Homo sapiens: one gene and its partners. The protein of the gene in region 1 purifies or fractionates together with the protein of each later gene. This does not show direct contact. Each region holds a gene or a part of one and is shown in the gene's direction. Other genes may lie near its edges.

Evidence for each region.
Region 2: the proteins of SLC16A10 (region 1) and CAV2 purify together in Homo sapiens (affinity purification with mass spectrometry; one large-scale study listed by BioGRID and IntAct). This does not show direct contact.
Region 3: the proteins of SLC16A10 (region 1) and PCNX1 purify together in Homo sapiens (affinity purification with mass spectrometry; one large-scale study listed by BioGRID and IntAct). This does not show direct contact.
Region 4: the proteins of SLC16A10 (region 1) and CLCN7 purify together in Homo sapiens (affinity purification with mass spectrometry; one large-scale study listed by BioGRID and IntAct). This does not show direct contact.
Region 5: the proteins of SLC16A10 (region 1) and CXADR purify together in Homo sapiens (affinity purification with mass spectrometry; one large-scale study listed by BioGRID and IntAct). This does not show direct contact.
Region 6: the proteins of SLC16A10 (region 1) and TRPM7 purify together in Homo sapiens (affinity purification with mass spectrometry; one large-scale study listed by BioGRID and IntAct). This does not show direct contact.
Region 7: the proteins of SLC16A10 (region 1) and KIF5C purify together in Homo sapiens (affinity purification with mass spectrometry; one large-scale study listed by BioGRID and IntAct). This does not show direct contact.

The regions. Positions count from the first base shown.
Region 1 is NC_000006.12:111,174,503-111,178,002, forward strand, and holds part of SLC16A10 (monocarboxylate transporter 10), read left to right. Parts: intron 1-2,709; coding exon 2,710-3,163; intron 3,164-3,500. UniProt on the Homo sapiens protein: Sodium- and proton-independent thyroid hormones and aromatic acids transporter.
Region 2 is NC_000007.14:116,502,738-116,505,889, forward strand, and holds part of CAV2 (caveolin-2), read left to right. Parts: intron 1-3,152. UniProt on the Homo sapiens protein: May act as a scaffolding protein within caveolar membranes. Interacts directly with G-protein alpha subunits and can functionally regulate their activity.
Region 3 is NC_000014.9:70,906,234-70,910,258, forward strand, and holds the start of PCNX1 (pecanex-like protein 1), read left to right. Parts: upstream 1-1,225; 5' UTR 1,226-1,617; coding exon 1,618-1,770; intron 1,771-4,025.
Region 4 is NC_000016.10:1,454,529-1,458,028, reverse strand, and holds part of CLCN7 (H(+)/Cl(-) exchange transporter 7), read left to right. Parts: intron 1-272; coding exon 273-335; intron 336-691; coding exon 692-775; intron 776-1,822; coding exon 1,823-1,916; intron 1,917-2,233; coding exon 2,234-2,298; intron 2,299-2,778; coding exon 2,779-2,895; intron 2,896-3,500. UniProt on the Homo sapiens protein: Slowly voltage-gated channel mediating the exchange of chloride ions against protons. Functions as antiporter and contributes to the acidification of the lysosome lumen and may be involved in maintaining lysosomal pH.
Region 5 is NC_000021.9:17,551,043-17,554,542, forward strand, and holds part of CXADR (coxsackievirus and adenovirus receptor isoform 1 precursor), read left to right. Parts: intron 1-706; coding exon 707-911; intron 912-3,500. UniProt on the Homo sapiens protein: Component of the epithelial apical junction complex that may function as a homophilic cell adhesion molecule and is essential for tight junction integrity.
Region 6 is NC_000015.10:50,676,798-50,680,297, reverse strand, and holds part of TRPM7 (transient receptor potential cation channel subfamily M member 7), read left to right. Parts: intron 1-3,500. UniProt on the Homo sapiens protein: Bifunctional protein that combines an ion channel with an intrinsic kinase domain, enabling it to modulate cellular functions either by conducting ions through the pore or by phosphorylating downstream proteins via its kinase domain.
Region 7 is NC_000002.12:148,997,227-149,000,726, forward strand, and holds part of KIF5C (kinesin heavy chain), read left to right. Parts: intron 1-37; coding exon 38-114; intron 115-1,173; coding exon 1,174-1,283; intron 1,284-3,196; coding exon 3,197-3,298; intron 3,299-3,495; coding exon 3,496-3,500. UniProt on the Homo sapiens protein: Microtubule-associated force-producing protein that may play a role in organelle transport. Has ATPase activity. Involved in synaptic transmission. Mediates dendritic trafficking of mRNAs.

The DNA.
Region 1 (3,500 bases):
TCTTTAAAGTACCTTTATGGGTTTTTTCTTCTAAAATTGTTTTTTAAAGAAAAAAGTTTTATTTGGAATAAGATTCTTGTAGGTAATTCCATGAGATGATTTATTTTAGCAGCAACATAATATTTACATTATTATTAATGTAATTAATGTTATTAATACCTCATCAGATAGCTTCTTTGATCTGGAAGCTTCCAGGTACCTATTGTCAGTACTTGTGGCTCTACCACTTGCCGAATGTATTACAACTCTAGTTGTGGTAGAGAGGGGACTGAGAGGTAGACAACTTATGTAATCTACTACCTAGTTTGTTAACAAAACACACATACAAAGCAATGTTTTTCAAATTTTTCTGACCACTGAGCAATAAAAATTATGACATATATTTTGATGTGACCCAGTTCTGTCTCTCTTTCTCTACCCTCTAAGTGAAACAAAATTTATTGAAACCAAAATTCCCTTACTACATGTAATATTCTCATATATTCTATTAAATTTCGTTATTTAGCTTGCTGATCAAAGGCTACTGAAACTTGAGAGCAAGATACAGGAGCAAGGGGAAATGTGGTATAGATTCTGAGTGTCAAGTGGCAGGTCCATTTTTTCCTCTAGCTCCAGTTCTGCCTTCTGAGGAAAACCTTCTCCAACAACTTAGGTCAATCACACCCATGTCCCTTCTCTGAATCCTTTTTGCACATATGATTGGTATCCGACAGCCTTACTCATTTACATTGCACTTATTTGGCTGCCAAACGTCACAAACTGGAACCATGTGTTACTGAAGGGAAAACCTGGAAGTGAAAAGGGTTCAGCAGTAGTGCAAATACCATCATAAAGCTCATATACTTCACTCTGCAGGAGGGAGAAGCTCTGTGGTTTTCCAACTGAGAGCATTACAGTACAGTGATACCACTGTACAGGAACTGATGTTCCTGATGATTCTGCTGTGAACAGTATTTTTAATATACACTTTGAAGAAGGCAGAGAGAAATGTATAATAGACTTAAATTTTTTTCTTTAAAATTGTTAAATAAAAACAAATAAGCACTTTAAGTAAGTTACAATTATCTGGAAAACTACTTAGGTGGAAAAACTGATACAGAATGAATGAAGTATTAATTTCTGTTTTGTTCTGTGTTATTATTATTTGGGATAGATGTCTTGTTTCTTTAAGCAGACTATGAATATCTTGAAGGCAGAACCACATTTTTTTTTTTTTTGAGACAGGGTCTCACTATTACTCAGGCCAGAATGCAGTGGTGTTATCATAGCTGACTGCAGCCTGGATTCCTGGGTTCAAGCCGTCCTCCTGCCCCAGCTTCCTGAGTAGCTAGGACTACAGGCATGTGCCATCACACCCAGCTAATTTCAGCTATTTTTTTTTTTTTTAAATAGAGATGGGGTTTTGCTATGTTGCCAGACTGGTCTCAAGCCATCCTCCTGCCTTGGCCACCCAAAGTGTTGGGATTACAGGTGTGAGCCACCACGTCTGGCCAAGGACCAGATTTTTAATATTCTTTTCCACAATGTATCTGGTACACAGTAGTTGCTTAATATGTTGGCTAAACAAAGAGTGGAGATTCAGTAAAGGGTGATCAGAGTGAGGTGAGATTAATTTGGGAAAGCCTAGAAGTGATTCTTGAGCCTGATTTGAAGGTGGTGCTAGCTGTGGATTAGTAGAGGGAGAAGGGCATCTCAGAGAGAGGATTGCCAACATGCCTTAATTTTATCAGATTCTAGAGTTCCTTATGATTACCTCAGCATGTTGCTAGACTAGCATTATTATCCAAAATTTTAATTATTAACCAACTTTAATCTTACTTTCTAACAAATTGTTTGCTTTTACTACTGATAGCCTTTTCAAAAAACTTTAACTAGTTTTATTCCTTACCATAATTGTTTCAAAGAACATAATGATATGATCCTTTATCTTCCTAAGAAATGTGCAATTATTTGGTTAAACTGTAAGATTATTTAATCCATTATTCTTTTGACACATGCATGGCCTTACAGCTTACAAACTGGGATCACTAAAGGAATACACTTAATTTAAGTCTTTCTGTAGTCAGAATATGATTTCTTGTTGTCTTGCACAATACTGAGAACAGTGCAGTACAGGGCGAAGGTTGGTCTACAGCCCTTAGGCCAGCAAAAACAGGCACAACTGCACCTCTGTGCAAATGTTCCTGACATAACCTTGGGGAAAAAATATAAAATGCGGCCTTTTCTTTTACTACCTTGTTTGGTAAGTACCTGGAAAAACTCCATGAAATAATTAGATTTCATAGTTAATTCTAACTTTTTTAAAAAATGTTTCATTGAGACTAGGTTTTTGGTTTGTTAATTGAATCACTGTTGATTTTACCCTTCCTGGCACCAACCTTTATTTCTGAGCTGTGGAGAGCACAGTTCTCACTCAGTGCTGTGTGCGTCACCTGAAATCCACAGAAAGAGGTGGCTGAACAAAATCACTGATGACCTTAATGGTTATTTTTCACATATTCAGATTAAATTAAAATACGTTTAGTGCTACATGCTTGACTTACTGAGTTTTTCCCTCTATTTTGGTTAATTTTTTTTTTTTTTGGTTAACTTTTACTTGTAGAAAATATGTTGATGAACAAAAACCCACTTATACTATAAGATTTTATTCTACCAAGCACACAGTAACAATATTGAAAGCTGCTTTCCATCTTTTTCATCTTTATACAGTTCCATCGAGCCTCTGTACCTTACCTATGGAATCATATTTGCCTGCGGCTGCTCCTTTGCATACCAGCCTTCATTGGTCATTTTGGGACACTATTTCAAGAAGCGCCTTGGACTGGTGAATGGCATTGTCACTGCTGGCAGCAGTGTCTTCACAATCCTGCTGCCTTTGCTCTTAAGGGTTCTGATTGACAGCGTGGGCCTCTTTTACACATTGAGGGTGCTCTGCATCTTCATGTTTGTTCTCTTTCTGGCTGGCTTTACTTACCGACCTCTTGCTACCAGTACCAAAGATAAAGAGAGTGGAGGTAGCGGATCCTCCCTCTTTTCCAGGAAAAAGTTCAGTCCTCCAAAAAAAATTTTCAATTTTGCCATCTTCAAGGTGACAGCTTATGCAGTGTGGGCAGTTGGAATACCACTTGCACTTTTTGGATACTTTGTGCCTTATGTTCACTTGGTGAGTATGCTCCTTCACTGATCATGAATATTACTATTTAATAAAGAAAAACTTCTTTGAAGAGAAAGTTAGGTCGAGTTAAAGTTGGCCTCAAACATTATCCTGGTTGTAATTTTGGTATTCTTGAAATGAAAGGTCTCTCAAGACAATGTCAGCACATCCATTAGACCACTAAACAGAGAGAGTATGTTTCATAGTGTGCTTTGGTATTTTAAAAACCCTGCAAACCCAGCCAGACACCATGGTGCCTGTCTATGGTCCCAGCTACTAAGCTGAGGCAGGAGGATCACTTGAGCCCAGGAGTTCGAATCCAGCCTAGACAACATAGAGAGACTCT
Region 2 (3,152 bases), on another chromosome or scaffold:
TCCTTTAAACAAACAATCAACAACAATAAAACACAGAAGTCTGGTGGTGTTGGATCCTAGACCAGAAGTACGGGCCATTAGGAATCAGTGAATTAGTTGGATTCCATACTACAGTCAGACAGAGATAGCTGCTGTTTGTTAAGCACAGGTTATTGGTCATAAGTGGATCATAACCAAAGAAATGTGGCTGGAGCACCCATATCCCTTATTTTTGCTGGAATGCAAAGCAAACAAATGCCCAACTGATGGAAATGCGATAGTAGCAATCTCATTTCTAGAAGACAGTTTTCATACAGTAAATTGCTATGAATGCAGTCTGCATGACTCTACAATTACTACAACACTAAATAAAAGTCTCTATCCTATGGCCTTATTATCCAAGGATATATATTATCCAAGGAATATATAACCTTACATATATTAATATATATAATATATATATATTATAAGATTTACTTAAGAAGTATTGGCCACATTCAGCCTCAACCAAATTTTGGGTCAATCAGAACTGCCTGGAGTTTCAGAAGCTAAACTATTTGTGATGTTGAGAACCCAACTTAAGTTTGATGTCGGAGGATCATTAGATTCTCTGCTCCAAAATGAGGGAACACAAGTAAACAAAAATAAAATCCAAATGAGTTAACAACACCCTATAAACTGAACTCCTCGAATGTGGGTAACTGCTTTGCTGAACAAGAAGATTCACTTTTGACATGTGCTAAATTCCCTTTTAGGACATGGAGATCTAAGGAGTCACGGAGATAGAAAATTTGTTAGCCTAAGGAAGAATAGAAAGTACATTGTATTCTGGCTGGGAGCAGTGGCTCTCGCCTGTAATCCCAGCACTTTGGGAGGCCAAGCTGGGCAGATCACTTGAGGTCAGGAGTTCAAGAACAGCCTGGCCAACATGGTGAAACTCTGTCTCTACTAAAAATACAAAAATTAGCCAAGCATAGTAGCAAGTGCCCATGATCCCAGCTACTCAGGGAGGCTGAGGCAGGAGAATCACTCGAACCCGGGAGGCGAAGGTTGCAGTGAGCCGAGATCACTTCACTGCTCTCCAGCCTGGGCAATAGAGTGAGAACCTGAAAAGAAAGAAGGAAGGGAAGGGAAGAGGAGGGGAGGGGAGAAGAAAGAGAGAAAGAAAGAGAGGGAGGGAGGGAGGGAGGGAGGGAGGAAGGAAGGAAGGGAGGGAGGGAGGGAGGGAGGAAGACAGAAAGAAAAAGAGAAAGAAGGAAAGAAAGAAAGAAAAGAAGAAAGAAAAAAGAAAAGAAAGGAAAGAAAGAAAGAAAGAGAAAGAAAAAGAAAGAAAGAGAAAGAAAGAAAGAAGGAAGGAATTCTAAGTGAAGTGGATTTGGTTAGGAAACTTTCTGATCTAAACTTCAGCCTTTTAATAGGCCAATTTGAGGTCATCTTGTTATAGTTATTTTCATTATATATTCTGCCTTCAAAATAGGTCTATTTATTATACATTATAATGACAGCATCATACAGGCATTTCAGGGGTACATAATAAATGTCAATCCTCATAGCCAGTTCTGAGAGATCTCCTGGTGTCACTTTAATTTGTAGCAACATGCCCAAGACCACATATCAAGTGAGAAATATAATAGAATAATAAGTCTAAAGTTGCCATCATTGAGGTTTCTATTCAGCTATTTATCTCTGAAACACTTAGTAATTAATTTTCTTATTATATAAAAGTGTTTCATGTATTTAGCACTTGAAATAAAACACAATTTGTGGAGACAGTCAATGTGAATAATTCTATATTCTAAAAATATATCAATCAATCAGAAAGCTGCCTAATATTTCCTTCATTTTGGGCTAAGTACAGCAGACCCTCATTTAAGTCATATTTTAATAGCAAACCAAGAAAATCAGCCTACTCCCTTATGCCCACCCAGGTAATAATAAAGCTTCCATTGAGGCTACCAGCAGTGCCTGAAAATCTCACAACTACTTTTGTGCTCAGAGGACATTACTACAACAGAGAACATTATTTAGAAAATTACATATAAAATTAACCATCCTGAGGACTATAAGGATATGCAGCTATGTTAGGAACAAGTGTATGAAAAATAACAATTTCAGGATAGACTAGTTTTCTTGTGTAAAAGTTCTAACATCATTTGCAGGGTTCTTTCAACTATACCATACAGCCCTTTTCAGTGTGTGTGATTACTGTGAAAAAATTAAAAAATATAAAACATAGTTAATAACATAAGGCATAAAAGAATGATAAATTTATGTTAGCTCAACCATTTACTAAGGGTCAAGGATGTCCTCACTGTTTAAAAAAACTTAAACGCTAGTAGGAAAGACAGAAATACAGCATCTATTTATAATACCTTTTGATACATGTGAAAATTAAGAAGTTTGTTTCAGTACTTTAGAAATACAATGAGGGAATATCCGATCTAGCCTGGTCCAGGAAAAGGGAAGAAGACTGAGGCAGCAGGAAAGGCTATCAGGAAGTAAACCCTCAGGGAAGTGTGAAGACTTAAGCAGGTTAATGTTAACTGGCAGAGACCAGGTAGATAAAGACATGGTTTTATTTATTTTTGTTTTACTGTTTCAGATAGCATGCCACCAGTAGAAAGAATATTAGTGTTTATTATCTACATGACTATATTTTTAGGCAACATATTTTTTGTGCATCTTATCACTTTAGTCCATTTGCATTACTATGAAGGAATACCTGAGACTAGGTTATTTATAAAGAAAAGAGGTTTATTTTTGCTCACAGTTCTGCGGGCTGTACAGGAAGCACAGTGCCAGCATCTACTTTAGGCAAGGACCTCAGGAAGCTTCCACTTATAGTGGAAGGAGAAGGAGGAGCAGGCACGTCACATGGCAAGAAAGGGAGCAAGAGAGAGAATGTGGAGGTCCCAGACTCTTTTAGTTAATCAGATCTCAAGCAAACTAACTGAGTGAGAACTCACGTTACCAAGAGGGTGGCAGGCACTAAGACATTCATGAGGGATCTACCCGCTGTGATCCAATTATCCCCACTCGGCCCCACCTCCAACACTGGGGACTACATTTCAAAATGAGAGTCAGGGGGACAAAAAACCCAAATCATTATCAGTGATCATTGTTCATTTATTTGTTTCAAACTCTCAACCAAATTTAAGTAAATGGGTCAGTAT
Region 3 (4,025 bases), on another chromosome or scaffold:
AAATGGATAATAAGGTGGAGAGCCTTGAGAAATGAACTTCCAAAGTTCAGTGCATGCAGTTAGCATGACTGCTGGTTTTAGAGTTCTCAACCACTTATTGCTTATGAGCAATAAGTGGCCATAAGCATTTGGCCAATCACTTACTTGAGTTTACAGGTTTTCTCATCCATAAAATAACAATAGCTGCTATGCTGCCCTCAAAGGGTTGTCCTGAGGTCTGAATGGAATGGGTGTGATAGTGTCTGAGCAACTATAAAGTGGTATGGCACTGGGAGGTATTGTAACGGTTTTTCATTACTCTTCTTAAAATATCACCAGTTTCCTTTGGCTCTTGTTTCCCTCATTAATTATAGCAACTGTAATCTGGGAATACACAGTACTTTTATTGCCATAAAAGCCAAACTTCAATAAACTCAAATTTCAAACTTTTCTATAAAATTTTATTCAGTGAGATCAGACACGCCTTATAAACATTACACAGAGCCAAGAATGATTCCGTTTTTACAGCTATAAAAAGAGATCTACAAGACCCTATTGTAATTTGGGGTGGCGTCACGGTTAATCTTTTTCAACCCTGTTTAGATTGGCCCATTAATAAAAATGGCTGCTAGTTACAGCACATTTAAAAATACAATCACCGCGTACAAATGGTAACCTGTCCACTCCATACTTCCATGTCCTGTGCCGCTTCTATTAACTTGTCTTTGGAAGTAGTAAATTCTCCCAGTCTGGACGTGGCTATTTTTTCTCACACACGGGCCAACACAGTTCTTGCTCAACTTGGGTGCGTTTATGACTTTTCAACAGTGTCATCAGCCGTACCTAACTCTTCCAGGCCTTCAGTATCTCAGGTGTTAGCTTCAGTTGTTCCTAGGTCTTTCACAAATATCATAAATGACAGGCAGGACGCTTTTCTGGAGTCAAGATCTGTTAGTTTCGGAGTCAGAAAGACCCCGTTTAGAGACTCGTAGGCGAACTTGCCAGGGGGCCTACCAGGGGCAGAATGGGGTCCTCCGGACCAGCCAGCCGCGTCTCAGCCACCTCCGCAGCCCCCGGGGCCCTGAACCCCGGCCGCGTTGACGCGCGCTTCTCCCGGACGTCGGCAGGAGGCGCCCGCGGCGGACCAGGCGCGGCGCGCACCGTAGCCGGCCCAGGGGGCGGAGGGAGCGGAGAGGAGGAGCTGGAGGGGGCGCGGCTTCCTCTCGGTCGCTCCCTGGCGCCGGGCCTCTTTCTCTGCCTGGCCCAGGGCTGGCGGCCGGCGGGGGTCGCGGCGGCGGCAGTGGGGGCGCTGGCGGGCCGCGGGTGGCGGGGGCCGGGCCGCGGCTCCGGGTGTTAGGAGACAAGATGGCGGCGGCTCTCAGAAGGCCGGTCTCCTCCTCTCCGCCGTCCTCCGCCCCGCCGCTCGCCGCCTCCTCCTCTCGGGTCTCCTCCTCCTCGTTTGCTGCCTCCTCCTCCTCCTGCAGCAGCACCAGCGACCGCCGAAGCGCCGGCTCGCTCACCCGGAGCTCCGGAGGTGGATAGACGGGGCAGCTGCAGGCTCCGGCGACCGAGGCCGAGCTGGGGCCGGGGCGGGGACGGCGGCGGCGGCGGCGGCGACGGCGGCGGCGCCGGGTGGGGATGGGGTCGCAGACGCTGCAGATCCTCCGACAGGGGGTGTGGGCCGCGCTCAGCGGGGGCTGGTACTACGACCCGCACCAGGCCACCTTCGTGAACGCGCTGCACCTCTACCTGTGGCTCTTTCTGCTGGGCCTGCCCTTCACCCTCTACATGGTGAGTGTGGGGGCGGGGAGCGGGTGGCTCCTTCCCCGCGAGCCGGTGGGGAGATGCTGGGGTCGCGCCCTCTTCCTCTTCCACGGGGTCTCGTCCCCCGGGGGCCGCCACCCTCTCGGTGTGAGGCTCCCCGCCCCCACTGCGTGCTCCCACTCCTCTCTTCGGGGCTTTCCTGGTTTCGGAGGTGACACGAGCAACGAGCCCACGGCAACCCGCGCCGGCCGCCCCCGCCCGCTCACTGGGAAGCGGCAGCGTCCTAGGCCCCTTCTCGGGGTTCCCTCCTGCGGCCACTCGGCTAGGCCGTCCCCGCCGGGGCCCCCCGCCCGTGGGGCTGTGTGGCAGGCGCCGAGCGCTCTGCGGCTTTAGGGGACGCCGCATCCATCCTTGGCACGCTGGGTTCCTCGGGCGCCCGGCATCCGGCACTGCCCGCCCCCGCCGCGGCCCTCGTCCGGGGCTCCCGGGAGAGGCCGCCCGCCGCCTCGCCGCTAATCCGCGTGCGGAGCCCCGGGAGCGCGGGGGACCGTGCGGCTCTGCTCCGAGTGTGTGTGGGGGTCGTCCGGGCTCGTCCTCCAGGGGTCCTGGGTGGTGGCTGAAAACCCGGCTCGGAACCCTCCTGCCTCTAAAAAACCGTTGTTGTGCTTCGCAGCGGTTCTTCTCTGTTCGGCCCCGTGGCCGGTGGCCGTGGTGCTTCCTGGCCTCCCTGGGGGGAGGGAGCGGGGAGATAACGGGGAATCTGGCTGGCATTTCAGCAGATTTGTTTGGCTTGGTTCAAGGCCTTTGGCGGATAGGAGTAGGGAGAGAGAGTACTGCCTGTTGCTGAATTCGGTGCGATCAGCTTCTCTGAATCATCTGTGTTTTTAAAGCAACATTGAAAGTTGTTAAGCGCAGTTTCTAAAGCACAGGTTAGGGTGGGGCGTTAGGGAAACTCGTGTGGACAGAGATGTTACTTAAGGCTTCATATAAAATTTTAAAGTAGTCAGAGGGGAGGAAAGGATCTGAACTTTTTATTTTAGGAGAATTCCTTTGAATGTATTTCTGCTAACTTTGAGGTTCTTTGTGGAGCTAGAGACAGGGTGCTGAGTTAGAAAATCCCGGAGGACCACTATGAGAAGTGCAAAAGGTGAGGACACCCAATTCTTCCCTAAGTGAAGTTCAGTTTCACTAATTGGCAGGAAAAGTGTCTGCTTGAGGGAAGATGTGCACATTCTCAAGCAGATTCACATTTTTCGTTGAAATTGTTTTGAAGGGACTTATTGTTTGAGGTTAAAAAAAAAAGCCATTAAGAAATGCTGATGGCTTGTGGCTTGTTTTATTAGGGGGACTTGTTCAGTCTTGTTGCATTCTGAAAATTTATCGTGAAGTATTATAATTTTCAATTAATTTTGGCCTAGGGAGTTCTATTTGCACTACTATACCTTCCAGGAATATGACATCATTAATGAACGGGTTAATTACTTTGGGTTTAAGAATCCTCAGGCTGTCACAAAATTTTCAAAGCAAATTTCTTCTATGTCCAGAAGAATTGTAGATTTAAAACTGAAAATGATTTTTGAGAGGTAAGGATTAGTTGCTGGGTCCAGTGTAAGATTTCTTTTTTAACACTTGTAGTAAACTGTGTGGTCATGGTTAAGTCTCTTTGTGTAGTTAGCAAATGTTACTGAAAGAATATTAGAGCAAATGGAAACCAGGACATTGAGTTTACTTCCTTCATTTTGGGAGTTCAGTTAAACTGAATTCTCACATATTTGAGTGTCTACCATGTACTAGACACTTTCTGAGATTGCTTCTGACTTCCTTATCTCAATTAATGGCAGTCCCACTCTTCCCAAACCAGAAGGTGCTGAGCTGTTCTTAATCAGTTCAGACCTTTACCTGAAATGGATAATAAGATGGAGAGCCTTGAGAAATGAACTTCCAAAGTTCAGTACATGCGGTTAGCATGACTGCTGGTTTTAGAGTTCTCAGCCACTTATTGCTTATGAGCAATAGGGGCTGTATCTTCAAAACCTAACTAGACGACGACTCCTCCCTCCTCCTCCTCCTCCTCCTCCTCCTCCTCCCCCTCCTCCTCCTCCTCCTCCTCCTCCTCCTCCCCCTCCTCCTCCCCCTCCTCCTCCTCCCCCTCCTCCTCCTCCCCCTCCCCCTCCTCCCCCTCCTCCTCCTCCTCCTCCTCCTCCTCCTCCTCCTCCTCCTCCTCCTCCTCGTCCTCCTCCTCCTCCTCCTCCTCTCACCAGCACCATCATCATCACGGCCAT
Region 4 (3,500 bases), on another chromosome or scaffold:
CCTCAGGAAGGAAGGAAACGAAAGAACCCCTTGCCTGCTCAGTGCTGAGGCCACAGAGGGCAGGTCCCCCGAGTGAGTGCGGGGGACGCTTGGCTGCTGTTTAGCTCCACTGTGGCCATGGGGAGACCCAGCCTGGGGGTGCTGGCCCCCTCCCGGAGGCCCCGTGTCCCAGCCACTCTGCCTGATCGGGGCTGTGTGTGCTGTTTTACGGCTCAGGTCCAAAGACAGCGCCTGCCTTTTCATCAGAGGCCATGCGTCTCCCTGTGTTTCAGACGTTGGTGATCAAAGTGTCCGGTGTGATCCTGTCCGTGGTCGGGGGCCTGGCCGTGGGAAAGGTAACAAAGTGCACATGGCCACTCCAGCTGGAGCCTGAGGCCGCCGGGCCCGCGAGGGCCGCCACGCCCATGTGTGTCTCTGAGCACCGGTCCTTCTGGTCTCCAGGAAGGGCCGCGTCACGCGTGTCTCTGAGCACCGGTCCTTCTGGTCTCCAGGAAGGGCCGCGTCACGCGTGTCTCTGAGCACCGGTCCTTCTGGTCTCCAGGAAGGGCCGCGTCACGCGTGTCTCTGAGCATCGGTCCTTCTGGTCTCCAGGAAGGGCCGCGTCACGCGTGTCTCTGAGCATCGGTCCTTCTGGTCTCCAGGAAGGGCCGCGTCACGCGTGTCTCTGAGCACCGGTCCTTCTGGTCTCCAGGAAGGGCCGATGATCCACTCAGGTTCAGTGATTGCCGCCGGGATCTCTCAGGGAAGGTCAACGTCACTGAAACGAGATTTCAAGGTGAGTTGAAATCTTGTGTGGGTGGGCTCCAGATGCCATGGGCACGGGCACGGGCACCACTCAGGGAGATGGGCTTCCCTCAGCACCCCCAGGCCGAGAGCCCCAGCCCCATCTGAGGACAGCCTGGCGGGTGGCTCCCAGAGCCAGCGGGCACAGTCCCTGCCCGGCAAGGCCTCCCTACGGCCCGCTGCTTCCCTCCTTGGGTCCCCTGCCACACGTGCATCAGTGTTTCCCGTGGGAGGGTCTGTGGCTCCAAGCGGCTTCTCAGAGGAGTGCAGAACCTGAGACCAAGTGTGCCCACCTGTTGTTTATTTGTCAAGACACACTTTGGAACACTTTTTCCCCAAAAAAGTCCCCAGCATGTTGATGGGGATTGAGCTGCATTTGTGTGTGATTGTATTTTTTTTTTTTTTTTGAGATGGAGTCTCTCTGTTGCCCAGGCTGGAGTGCAGTGGTACAATCTCAGCTCACTGCAGCCTCCACCTCCCAGGTTCAAGCAATTCTCCTGCCTCAGCATCCCGAGTAGCTGGGATTATAGGTGCCCGCCACCACGCCTGGCTAAGTTTTTTGTATTTTTAGTAGAGATGGGGTTTTGCCATGTTGGCCGGGCTGGTCTCAAACTCCCGACCTCAGGTGATCCGCCTGCCTCGGCCTCCCAAAGTGCTGGGATGACAGGCGTGAGGCACCGCGCCGGCCATGTGTGAATTTAGAGGCAGGCAGCGTCCCGCAGGACAAAGAACAGCAAGGCTGGGTTTCCATCCGTGCGCTTTTCGTTAGAGGGTAGAGGTTTTTGGAATCTTGCGTGCGCTGGAAAGTGGAGCTCCTGGCTGGGTGTTTGCGTGTTTCCCTGGGCTGCCGGTGGTGGTGCTGACCCTGCTGTCTCTTGCCGTGGTCTGCAGCACGGTGCTCTTCAGGAATCAGAGCTGCTGACTCGGTTGTCCTGAAAGCCCCTTCCCCTGCACAGCCCCTGTCCTGGCAGTTGCTCTCCCTTTCTGAGAGCCGTGCCCTCAAGGAACCTGCCCCGACCCTGGTCTGTCCCTGTTGCAGATCTTCGAGTACTTCCGCAGAGACACAGAGAAGCGGGACTTCGTCTCCGCAGGGGCTGCGGCCGGAGTGTCAGCGGCGTTTGGAGCCCCCGTGGGTGAGGAGGGCCGCACCGGGTCCAATGCTTTGCCCTCGCCCTGTGTGTTGGAAGGAACGGTCTCCTCTCTGTAGGCCCAGTGCCCGCTGAGGGTGGCAGAGGCTTGGAGTCACGGCCGGGGCATTTGGAAGCGGCCGGCAGTGTACTTGGGTCCAGCCCTCAGACCTCCCTCAGGGTCCCTCTCTGTGTGGCTGGGGCCCACCCCATTAGCTTCTTTCTGACGTGGTCTGGGTTCCCTGGAGCCTGGGGGAGGGAGTTGGTGGTGGGCATGGTGCCCTGTGTCCAGCTGGCACCCGAGCCGGCCGCCTGCCTTCCAGGTGGGGTCCTGTTCAGCTTGGAGGAGGGTGCGTCCTTCTGGAACCAGTTCCTGACCTGGAGGATCGTAAGTTCCTGCTGATGGCTGCCTCCTGATCAGGGTGCATGCTGCGCTCTCATTTCCCACCATGGGGTCCACCTTGGGGCCACCCATCGAGCTGCGGCTGGAGCTGGACCCCCTGTGGGTCTGTCAGGCCTTGGTCCTGCCCAAAGCAGCGGTCCTGCCTTTGCTGCCCAGTTCGCCCTTGGTCCTGGGCACCATTGCCAGCCCTGGGTGGCTCCCGGGTAGGGGATCAAACAGCCGGGAACCCAGCCCTGCCCCACCTTCCCCTCTTGCTCTCCACTGGCAAGTCCAGAGAGGGCTGGGCCGCTCCTTGCCCGCACAGTGCGCCCACCCCTGGCTCCAGCCCCTTCCCTTCTGCCTTGGGCGGGGTCTGCAGACTCCTGGCCCCGGGGCTGACAGGAGGGGCGATGGTCCCTGCTGGTCCGTGAGCCCTGGGCTGGGAGCGTGGCTCTGAGGGCGCTGGTTTCCTGCCCTCTGCCGCAGTTCTTTGCTTCCATGATCTCCACGTTCACCCTGAATTTTGTTCTGAGCATTTACCACGGGAACATGTGGGACCTGTCCAGCCCAGGCCTCATCAACTTCGGAAGGTTTGACTCGGAGGTAACCTGCCCCATCGCCCACCTCGCCCACCTCGTATCCTGGTCCAGGACCCTGTTTGCTTAAGGCCCAGGTTGAGAATTTGGTCCTTTAGAAAACTCTGGTTGATAGCTGTGGAGCTGAGAGCTCTTGTGTAAGCTCCAGGGCCCCGAGGGGCTGCAGGAAGACACCCCAAGCTGCCCCTCAGGTCAGGGCACCATGTGACCAGCAGGGCACCTGGGATGTCACACAGTTGCTGCGTGCATGGGGCCTCCCACGGCCTGGGGGCACGTGCAGCAGCCGCTCTCGGGGCAGGTGGGCTCAGGCCTAGTTTCCAGGGTAGCCTGGGGCCTGGGCTGGGGAGACTCTCCGTGCCATCGATAGGGCGGCTCTGTGCGCAGGAAACTGGGGGACCACGGGCTATGTTCCCAGTGCTTGGGGCCCTCCCCGCCCCGGGTGCTGAGGGTGGCAGGGTCTCTGAGAGCCTCGCTGGCCACCCCGCCAGGCAGGGGCCAGGCCTGCTCAGAACACCCAGTGTGTTTCTCCCCTGTGGACTTCCGCAGCCTGCGTGGAAGGGCGGGAAGGCTCTCTGTGGGGACAGCTCTCTTAAGATGGTGGTCCTTGAGTTT
Region 5 (3,500 bases), on another chromosome or scaffold:
CTTGATTTTGTTACACTTGGTTGGCAAACTACAGCCTCAGAGGCAGTTGAAAAATAGAGTATATAAGAATGAGCAGGCCAGGCATGGTGACTCACACCTATAATCACAGCACTTTGGGAAGCCAAGGCGGGTGGATCCCCTGAGGTCAGAAGTTCGAGACCAGCCTGGCCAACGTGGTGAAATCCCTTGTCTACTAAAAATACAAAAATTAGCTGGCTGTGGTGGCACGTGCCTGAAGTCTCAGCTACTGGGGAGGCAGAGGCGAGAGAATTGCTTGAACCCGGGAGGTGGAGGGAGCCGAGATCTCACCATTGCACTCCAGCCTGGGCCACAGACACAGACTCCACCTCAAAAAGAAAAGAAAAGGAAAAGAAAAGACAACGAACAAGCAAATCTGTGTTCTTGCCCAATCTTACTAAATTGCTCTCTAGGACAGTATAGGGCTTTACTATTTTATCATGTTGCGTCTTGGTTTCCCCATTAAAAATAGAAGTCTGGGACTATACCCAAGGATCACATTGATTCCTTTCCATTTTCTCGTTCTGTGGTTTGGGTAGTTTTATGTTTCCCCATAATACTGTGTTCTTCTTTTTCTTTTCTGGGAGGGGGCGTTCTGTAGCAGCAGGTGTATCCAGGGCTCCTTTAAGAGACAGTTTTTTTTGTGTGTGTTTGTTTTTCCTCCTGTCTAATTTTGGCTTTCTTTTAGATTATTTTATATTCTGGAGACAAAATTTATGATGACTACTATCCAGATCTGAAAGGCCGAGTACATTTTACGAGTAATGATCTCAAATCTGGTGATGCATCAATAAATGTAACGAATTTACAACTGTCAGATATTGGCACATATCAGTGCAAAGTGAAAAAAGCTCCTGGTGTTGCAAATAAGAAGATTCATCTGGTAGTTCTTGGTAAGTTATTTTTATTTGTGTTAACGGGTTACTGAGTAAGAGAATGATTAGTCATAGTACTGTAGTAGCAGCACTTGTATAAAATAAAGCTTAATTTTTTAGAATAACAATTTTAAACACTTGAAGTACTTCTATGTTGGATAGCATCAAATATAAAACTAGCTTTTGGTTTTGGATAGGAAAAGTAAGAAGTGATCAACTTCTTTGTGAAATTCATAAGAGTTTGAAAATAAGTGAACGAGTATTATGGTATGGAGGAAGAACCCTAAGCTAGGAGTTAGGAGATCTAGGGTTTTTGCCTTGTCCTCAGAATTTGCCCTGAGAATTATGTAGAACCATGTTTCTATGATGAATAATTTAAGCATTTAGAATGGAGATGAAGAAATATGGAAGAAGGAATATTGAATTCAAGTAAGGCCATTAGGCATCACATAGTATTTAAGCTTCTTGGCATCACTGTTTTTCATCATTAAAGTGAGGAGATGAGACATTCACTGATATCTTATAGCCCTCTCTGTAATAGTTAATAGGGAGGTAGTGTAAACTGCTTTGTAAACTGCCAAAGACTACAGAGTTTATTATCCTTCTCTAGATTCTGTGATAATGTCTACAAGCACTCTTAATCCCTTCAAATTGAGAAACTGAAAGATAATAGTTCATAAATATACTTCTAAAACCATACTGTGGTAAGCTTTACACAAAATGTACATTGGCTACCATGTAGAAAAACATAGCTGTCTAGCTCTCTGCTTAATGACAGTAAATTCCCCTGTCCTCATGTTTTAGGGGACACTTGGGGATTGACTTTCATAGGAAAAGCTGATGCTAGAATTGTCTAGCATGACTGGAAATAACTGATCAGGGCAGGCCTCCCACATCAACATTTACCTCATTCCTTCTGTTTAGAGAACTGATTAGGGGTGGGGTAGAATATTCTAAAGAATACTCTTTATTTTAATTTTAATTTAATTTAATATTATTTTATTTGAGATGGAGTCACACTCTGTTACCCAGGCTAGAGTGCAGTGGCACAATCTCTGCTCACTACAGCCTCTGCTTCCCAGGTTCAAGTGATTCTCTTGCCTCAGCCTCCCAAGTAGCTGGGATTACAGGCATGCACCACCACGCCTGGCTAATTTTTGTATGTTTAGTAGAAACAGTGTTTCACCATGTTGGCCAGGCTGGTCTCAAACTCCTGACCTCAGGTGATCCACCCACCTCGGCCACCCAGAGTGCTGAGATTACAAGAATACTCTTTAGGAGAGCAATGTTCAAGATGACTTGGGCACCCAACACTTAACTACTCCTCCTACAAGTAGACCCAGCACTTAACTATTACTCCTAGAGACTAGGAACAAGAGTGGGGATTTTTGTGTACCTTCATGGCAAATTCATGCATTGTCTTGGTAGATAGACTCTGCTGGCAGCATCATTGAATGGGGACCTGAAGAGGTCCTGGTGAAATGCATCATTCTGAATCGCACTAACTAAAAATGTTTCTTGTGGTGTGAAAGTAAGTCAATCTAAAAAAGGAACCAGGAAAAGGAATATGGTAATGTTGGAAATTTGAATTTTCTGTGTCTTCATTGAGTAAACATGGAGTAACTTTTCTTTGTTATAAATGTATAAGCAAGTGAAAGATTAACACCTGGTCCGAATTCTTTTTTTTTTTTTTTTTTTCTTTTTGAGACCAAGTCTCGCTCTGTCACCCAGGCTGGAGTGCAGTGGCATGATCTCGGCTCACGGCAACCTCCGCCTCCTGGGTTCAAGCAATACTCTTGTCTTGCCGTCCTGATTAGTTGGGACTACAGGTGCCCGCCACCACACCTGGCTGATTTTATTTTTGGTAGAGACGGGGTTTCACCATGTTAGCCAGGATGGTCTCAATCTCCAGACCTCGTGATCTGCCTGCCTTGGCCTCCCAAAGTGCTGGGATTACAGGTGTGAGCCACCGCACCCAGCTACCTGGTCTGAATTCTTATCACAGACCCAGGAATTCCTGAGATTATAACCCTGACTATACTTTCTTCCAACACTGCTCTCTAGGAACTATTAAGTTGGAAGATGTATACGGAATATTAACTGGTTCATGATATGCGAAGCAGAAGATATTTGATTATCGGAATTATTTATTGTGAAACCCCTGTTTGATGGGACAGTTACACTGGGATTAATGGGGTTGGCACATATTCCCAGAAGAGTTGTGGACAAGCATGTTTGTGTGTTTGTGTATTGTCTGGATCCTGTGGGACCAGGTTCAGGGTCACATTTGCAGTTCTCAACTGAAGAGAACATTACAGCAGAACATGTCCCAAAAAGGAACCTGAGTTGGGTGGTAGGGGATGGCACATGATGTGGCTCAGTTCACTCATGGCAGGAGCCGTGACTGCCCGGCAGTAGGAATGGCCTTTTTATATTAAACTTTGAACCCCAGCATGTCCTAAGAATGGGTAAGTGGGAAGCATTGACACAGTTCACCCTGAGTTACTCCTGGGGAGAATTTTATAGCCAAGTCAGCCTTCAGTTCAAACCAAGGAGGGGGAGAGGGGATAAACTGGGGATGAGAGGAGAAAGCAGGGAAGTGATTGC
Region 6 (3,500 bases), on another chromosome or scaffold:
AAGTACTGGGATTACACGCATTAGTCTGTATGCATTTTATTTTATTTTTATTTTTATATTTTTTGAGATGGAGTCTTGCTCTGTCACCCAGGCTGGAGTGCAGTGGCACAATCTCAGCTCCCTGCAGCCTCTGCCTCCCGGGTTCAAGTGATTCTCCTCTGTCAGCCTCCCGAGTAGCTAGGATTACAGGCACCCGCCACCATGCCCAGCTAATATTTGTATTTTTAGCAGAGACAGGGTTTCACCATGTTGACCAGGCTGGTCTCGAACTCCTGACCTCAAGTGATCCACCCACCTTGGCCCCCCAAAGTGCTGGGATTACAAGCGTGAGCCACCGCCCGGTCATGCATTTTATTTTGACAAGTGCAGAGACACATACTCTGGGGCAATCCTTAGTAGATTAGAAAAGTCATTAAATAGATTTCTGGATGGGTGTAACTCTTTGTTAAAAGCAGCAGGAAAAGACTGGGCATGGTGGCTCTTGCCTGTAATCCCAGTGCTTTGGGAGGCTGAGGCGGGAGGATTGCTTGAAGCTAGGAGTTTGAGACCAGCCTGGCCAACGTAGATAACCCCACCTCTACTAAAAATATAAAAATCAGCTGGACGTGATGGTGTGCGCCTGTAATCCCAGCTCCTTGTGAGACTGGGGCATGAGAATTGGTTGAATCCAGGAGATGGAGGTTGCAGTGACTCCAGATTGCGCCACTGCACCCCAGCCTGGGTGACAAAACAAGACTCTGTCTCAAAAAAAAAAAAAAATATATATATATATATATATATATATATTATATATATACACATATATATAATATATATATATATAAATGAAATAAAACCTGTAGAAACCTATCATGAATGTATCAACAAAAGTATCAACACCCTGCTCACTGATAGATAATGGGTTGATATGGCTTACTCGCAGTGTGAACGTCCAAGCGTCCAAGTTTTCTGTTTTGTTTTTTTTGGATAGTGTTTTGCTCTGTTGCCCATGTCAGAGTGCAGTGACATCATCATGGCTTACTGTATTCCCAACCTCCTAGGCTCAAGTGATCCTGCCACTTCAGCCTCCCAAGTACCTAAAATGACAGGCCCATACCACCAACCTGGCTAATTAAAAAATTTTTTTGACTGGGTGCGGTGGTTAATGCCTGTAATCCCAGCACTTTGGAAGGCTGAGGCGGGTGGATCACCAGGTCAAGAGATCGAGACCATCCTGGCCAACATGGTGAAACCCCATCTCTACTAAAAATACAAAAATTAGCCGGGCGTGGTGGCACGCACCTGTAGTCCCAGCTACTCGGGAGGCTGAGGCAGGTGAATCTCTTGAACCCAGGAGGTGGAGGTTGCAGTGAGCTGAGATCACGCCATTGCACTCCAGCCTGGGTGACAGAGCGAGACTTCGTCTCAAAAAAATTTTTTTTTTTGTTTTTGCAAAGATGGGTTTCTCACTCTGTTGCCCAGGTTGATCTTGAACTCCTGGGCTTAAGTGGTCCTCTTGCCTTGGCCTCCCAAAGTGTTGGGGTTACAGGCATAAGCCACTGCACCTGGCCTTAAGTTTTTAAATATATAGAACTTTTCTACCAATTGTTACAGAATTATAGATGCTTTTCAATAATATCTTTAAAACTCTCATAGGGTTCGTATCTAAAATGTCAGTAATATCTAATTATTAATTAGTTGAGTAGTTGGCAGCCAGTTTAGAGTAAGAGTGGAACTCTGTGACATAATAAAATTATGTATATGTGTGTGTGTGTGTATATATATATATATATATATATATTTTTTTTTTTTAAAGAATGGAACTAGAGAGTAGGGTCTGTAAGAGTGTCAGAAAGTCAAATGTATTGAACTCTGATAGGGGAAGTCAGAGAGTGCCAGCTTATTTCAACATTTTGCTTTAGGCTAGTCTTATTTGTCATTGTCTGTGTCACCCTTGGCAGGCATGTTGGTCACCCTTGGCAGGCATGTTGACCCATGTACAAATTTATCACATAACTCTGAATTTCTAGGTGTTGGTTTTTGTTTTTGTTTTTGTTTTTGTTTTTGTTTTTTTTTTTTGAGAGAGAGTCTCACTCTGTTGCCCAGGCTGGAGTGCAATGGTGCATCTTGGCTCACTGCAAGCTCTGCCTCTTGGGTTCACGCCATCCTCCTGCCTCAGCCTCCCGAGTAGCTGGGACTACAGGCGCCCACCACCACGCCCGGCTGATTTTTTGTATTTTTTTAGTAGAGACGTGGTTTCACCATATCGGTCAGACTGGTCTCAATCTCCTGACCTCGTGATCCGCCCGCCTCGGCCTCCCAAAGTGCTGGGATTATAGGCATGAGCCACTGCGCCCAGCCAATTTCTAGGTCTTTAGTGTCATTTAACTTTCTTTTCTTGAGCACATGAACTTTATTAGTAGGCAATTTCTTTTAATTTGATTACCGTTCTTTTGAATATGGGTCACATTTTCCTGTCCATTACCATATCTAGTCATTTTGGAGTGTATATTGGACATTGGGATTGTTACTTAGTAGAGGCTCTGGGTTACCTTTTGTTTTTTTTTTTTTTTTTTTTTTGATACGGGGTCTTGTTCTGTTGCCCAGGCTGGAGTGCAGTGGCGTGATCTCAGCTCACTGCAAGCTCTGTCCCCCAGATTCAAGCAATTCTTCTGCCTCAGCCTCCTGAGTAGCCGGGATTACAGGCGCGTGACACCACACCCGGCTAATTTTTGTGTTTTTAGTAGGGATGGGGTTTCACCATGTTGGTCAGGCTGGTCTCAAACTTCTGACCTTGCGATCCGCCTGCCTTGGCCTCCCAAAGTGCTGGGATTATAGGTGTGAGCCACCACGCCCAGCCTCTGGGTTCTCTTTTAATCCTGTGCTCTGTGTGTGTGTGTGTTGTTGTTGTTGTTATGTACTGAATGTGATCTCCCTCGCTCCCCGAGAATTCATATCTTGAAGCCCTAACCTCCAGTGTGATGGTATTTGGAGATGAGAACTTTGGGAGATGGAGGTAATCAGGGGTAGATGAGGTCATGAGGGTGGGGCCCTGGGTCTGATAGGATTTATGTCCTTAGAAGAAGAGATACCAGAGAGCTTATTCACTCCCTCTTCACTGTGTGAAGACACAGTGAGGAGGCAGCTGTCTGAGAGCCTTCATCAGACACTGGCCCTCCTGGAATCTTGATCCTGAACTTTCAGTCTCCAGAACTGTGAGAAAATTTGTTTCAGTTGTTATCCCACCAAGTCTGTGTGGTATTGGTTGTGGCATCCCAAGCCGACTAAGACAGTTGTTGATTAACTTCATTGTACTCAAACTCCAAACTGTCTCTCCTACAATGGGCAGCAGGAATATCTGCTCAGTTATTTTATTTAGCTGGGCTGCCTGGAGGCTGCCCCATGTGTACGATCTTCATGGGTCAGTGAGAGATTTGTGTAGAATTAATATTAAGTATTTAGGATTCCTTTTCTCAACTCTTGCGGAAACTTTCCCATCACTTTCCAGCTGCTGTTTTCAC
Region 7 (3,500 bases), on another chromosome or scaffold:
AGTTAAGTCTTAAATCATCATTTAAAATTCAAAACAGAAAAAATGCACGAAGTCAGCTTCCAGGATAAGGAGAAGGAACATCTGACGCGGTTGCAGGATGCTGAAGAAATGAAGGTGTGTGTGGCTGCCCCTTCCATCAAGCCCAGTGTGCATTTGATGCATTTGGATTGGAAATGCTTGTTCTAGGAAAATCTGTCACCTTCAGATCCGTATATGGCAAGGGACAGGGGAGGGGCTGTTGTTGGGCATTCAGAGTCGATCTCAGAGTATAGCCTGGCTTAGAAATGAACAAGTCCAGAAACCCCAAGATGTCTGTAGAGAATGGTTAAGTTGCGTTAATACCTTTGTCTTCACCATTCCTGATGAAGAGGGAAAGGGTAGCACCCCCAATCACTGCATGGGCTCTTTTGTCGGAGTTAACTTCTAAGGATTTCTTCCTCCAACCTTTACGCAGAACACACCAAATTTGAGTTTCTATCTCAAACATAGAGATTTTTCTTTTGGTCACATTTTAAACTGTAAAGGAAAATTGATTGTGGAGTAAGACTTTTAGGTGAATAAAATGAGACAGGAGAAGATGTAGGATTTTGATTAGTTGTAGGCAAACTATGAGCCTCATTGAGTCAAGGTCCACAGTTAAAGACGTCCACGGCATGCCCTTGCTCCAGCCAGCAGAATAAAATCATGCGTCGTGGGAGTCCCTTTCCTGTTTTCAGAGTGCTGTTGCCAAAAGGTCTCCTTTGGACATCATCATAAATCTGTGCAGTGGGCAGGGCAGGGGCTTTTATCTCAGTTTTACATGTGAGGGAGTGCAGCTCACACAGGTTACAGGCTTATCTGGAGGTTACGTGGATAGGGAGAGGTTGGTGCCCTCTGACTGACCTGGCTGGAGAAGCTCAGGCTGGGCTGTAAAAGGTCAAGGGAACACTTTTTATTTAGTTGGTGGGCTAATTGGCTTCTAGGGCCAACTTGGTTTGATAACAGATCTTGGGTTTTGTTATCCCAATAAAGCAAGGCCGGGTCCTGGGGGCAAAACAGCCAGAAATGCCCCCAGTTTTGGGATCTGACATCTGAGGGACACAGGGAAGGAGGTAGGTCCAGATCCAGGGCTTGTCACAGAGTGGGCTGAGTGCCAACGAGTAGATGACATGTTTCTCTTGGCCTGGGATGCAGAAGGCGCTGGAGCAGCAGATGGAGAGCCACCGGGAAGCTCACCAGAAGCAGCTGTCCAGACTCCGAGACGAAATTGAGGAGAAGCAGAAAATCATTGATGAGATTCGGGAGTGAGTCGGCCCAGGGCACCAGGGGTGTGGGGGTGGTCATGCCTCGGTCCTCTTGGGGAAGCCTGGAAGGATGTGGCTCTTAGTCGAGGGCCCTGCTCACCTTGCCCTGTGGGCACTGCCCTGGTGACACAGCAGGCTGGGCGGGCTGCTTCCAAGGTCTGTTCTCCGATCTGGAGCTGAGCCTCCTGGAGCCCTGGCATGGCAGGTGGCAGGCGGGCCCAGCTGCCTCTCCTAGTCCCCGAGGGCCAGGGTCACATAGGTGATTCCGCTGGATGGACGCATGCCCCAGTAGATGGGGGGGAGCATCTGTAATGAAAGCACCAAAAAAAAAAAAAAAAAAGAAAAGAAAAGAAAAGAAAAAAAAAAAATTTGGTCCTGACTACAGGATTCTAGTAGGTTAATAAACACTCGAGAGAAGACAGCACCACCGCCTCCCCTTCTCCCCCTACACATACACGCTCACTGGGCAACCCAGCCACCTGGTTCCATGTGCTCACTTCTTAGGGCCCCACACTGTCATGTGTCTGTGCAGGTAGAGGTGCCAGTGACCTGTGGCACTGCCACCAGGATGGCATCATTGCAGTTTCTCTCAGGTGACACCCCCTCATGTTGTGCTCCTGCCTTGTCGCAGCCTCTGACATGCCCTCTGCTCCTTCAGAATAATGTTTTCAAATGCTCTGCATAAAAGACCTGGGATTACAAAGAAAACCAATTATATTGAAATGCTGACCTCCCCACCCCCACCCCACCCAGGGTCTACACTGTTCCCTCCCCTCCCGCTTTCTGTAGATGAAGAAACAGATTTCTATATGGGAAGCAAGGCGAAATGATTTACTTAAGGTCACATTGCTAAATAGGAATCAGATTGGAGTTAGACTTTAATTCTCCAGACTACTGATCCAAGTCCCTTTTCAATGTGTGTGAGCCGCTCGAAAGGTGCATTTGCATTTTAAAAGAGGAGAATGGTAACCCAAGCAAAAGTCTAAATGGTGTGACCCAGGCTCGGTGCCCAGTTCCTGAAGGAAGGCACTTAGCCTCCTCCCTCTTTTTCTCCTCTTCGGCCATCCCCTGCTGTTGCCATGTTGTGCTTTTCCCCTTCAGGGATATCTCACATTCGTTATTCTGATTAATCACCCTCACAGATTCGACTGGAAGGGAGGGGGAGGTTGGAGGGAAGGAAGAGGGAGAAAGAGGGTTGGTTGGTGAGTGAGTTAGGTGGAGGGGGAAGCTTCCCTGGCTTGTGCCTTTCAAATGGACTCTGGGTTTTCCTTCTGGTAGTGCATAGCTGTTCCTTTACAGGCGCTTAGGCGTGGCTCTAGGAAAGGTTTTATGAGTCCTGGGCTGATGTAAATGTTGACCAAACACCCTCAACCAGATGGCGAGTTTCTGTTTGCAGCAGAGCCCAGGCTGTCTTTTCTTCATAATTCTCTCTGTGCCCACTCCTCGAGGGCAGGAACTGTCCCTGTATCAGTGAGGCATTCGGACTTGGGAGATGTTTTTAGAACATCAGACCAGAAATGAGGGAAGGTGGAAATGGCCAAATCAGGTTCCCCAAGTGACTGCATGCCATCCGAGGGGCCGAGGAAGCAGAGTTCTTCTGACATGGGCTCTCTGTTTTAAAATATCAGCCCTTCTCCCATCTCATTATTTTTCCCCTGAAGCTCTTGCACAAGCAAACTATAAATACATCCTCAAAGCCTTATGTTTCATGACTCTTAGATGCACCCCAGAAATTAGTTTTCACTTGGGCACGGAGGAAGCTGTGAGGCTGTTCTGTGATCCCTCCAAATCCTGCAGAATTACTGCCTTTATTGTACAGAGCTAATAGGGTTGGAACAGAACCACGGTTTTAGCCTGATGACTCAGAATTTCAGACTGATGTGGAATATATTGCTTTTTCCTCTCAATTTCAGTTTGAATCAGAAACTGCAACTGGAACAGGAGAAGCTTAGTTCTGATTATAACAAGCTGAAAATAGAGGACCAAGAGAGAGAAATGAAGCTGGAAAAGCTCTTGTGAGTGCACTCTAAATATTTCCTCTATTTTCTCTCATCCCCATGATATTCTGGTTAGATTGGGCTAATTTAAAAACAGACAATGGCTATTTGTGTGCTTGTTGGTGGGTTTTGTTGATTTATCTGTGGATGCAAATAGTATCTGCTGAAATCTCTGAGTCCCCTGTGGTGGTCTATGGTTCCTTTTTGTTTTTCAGATTGC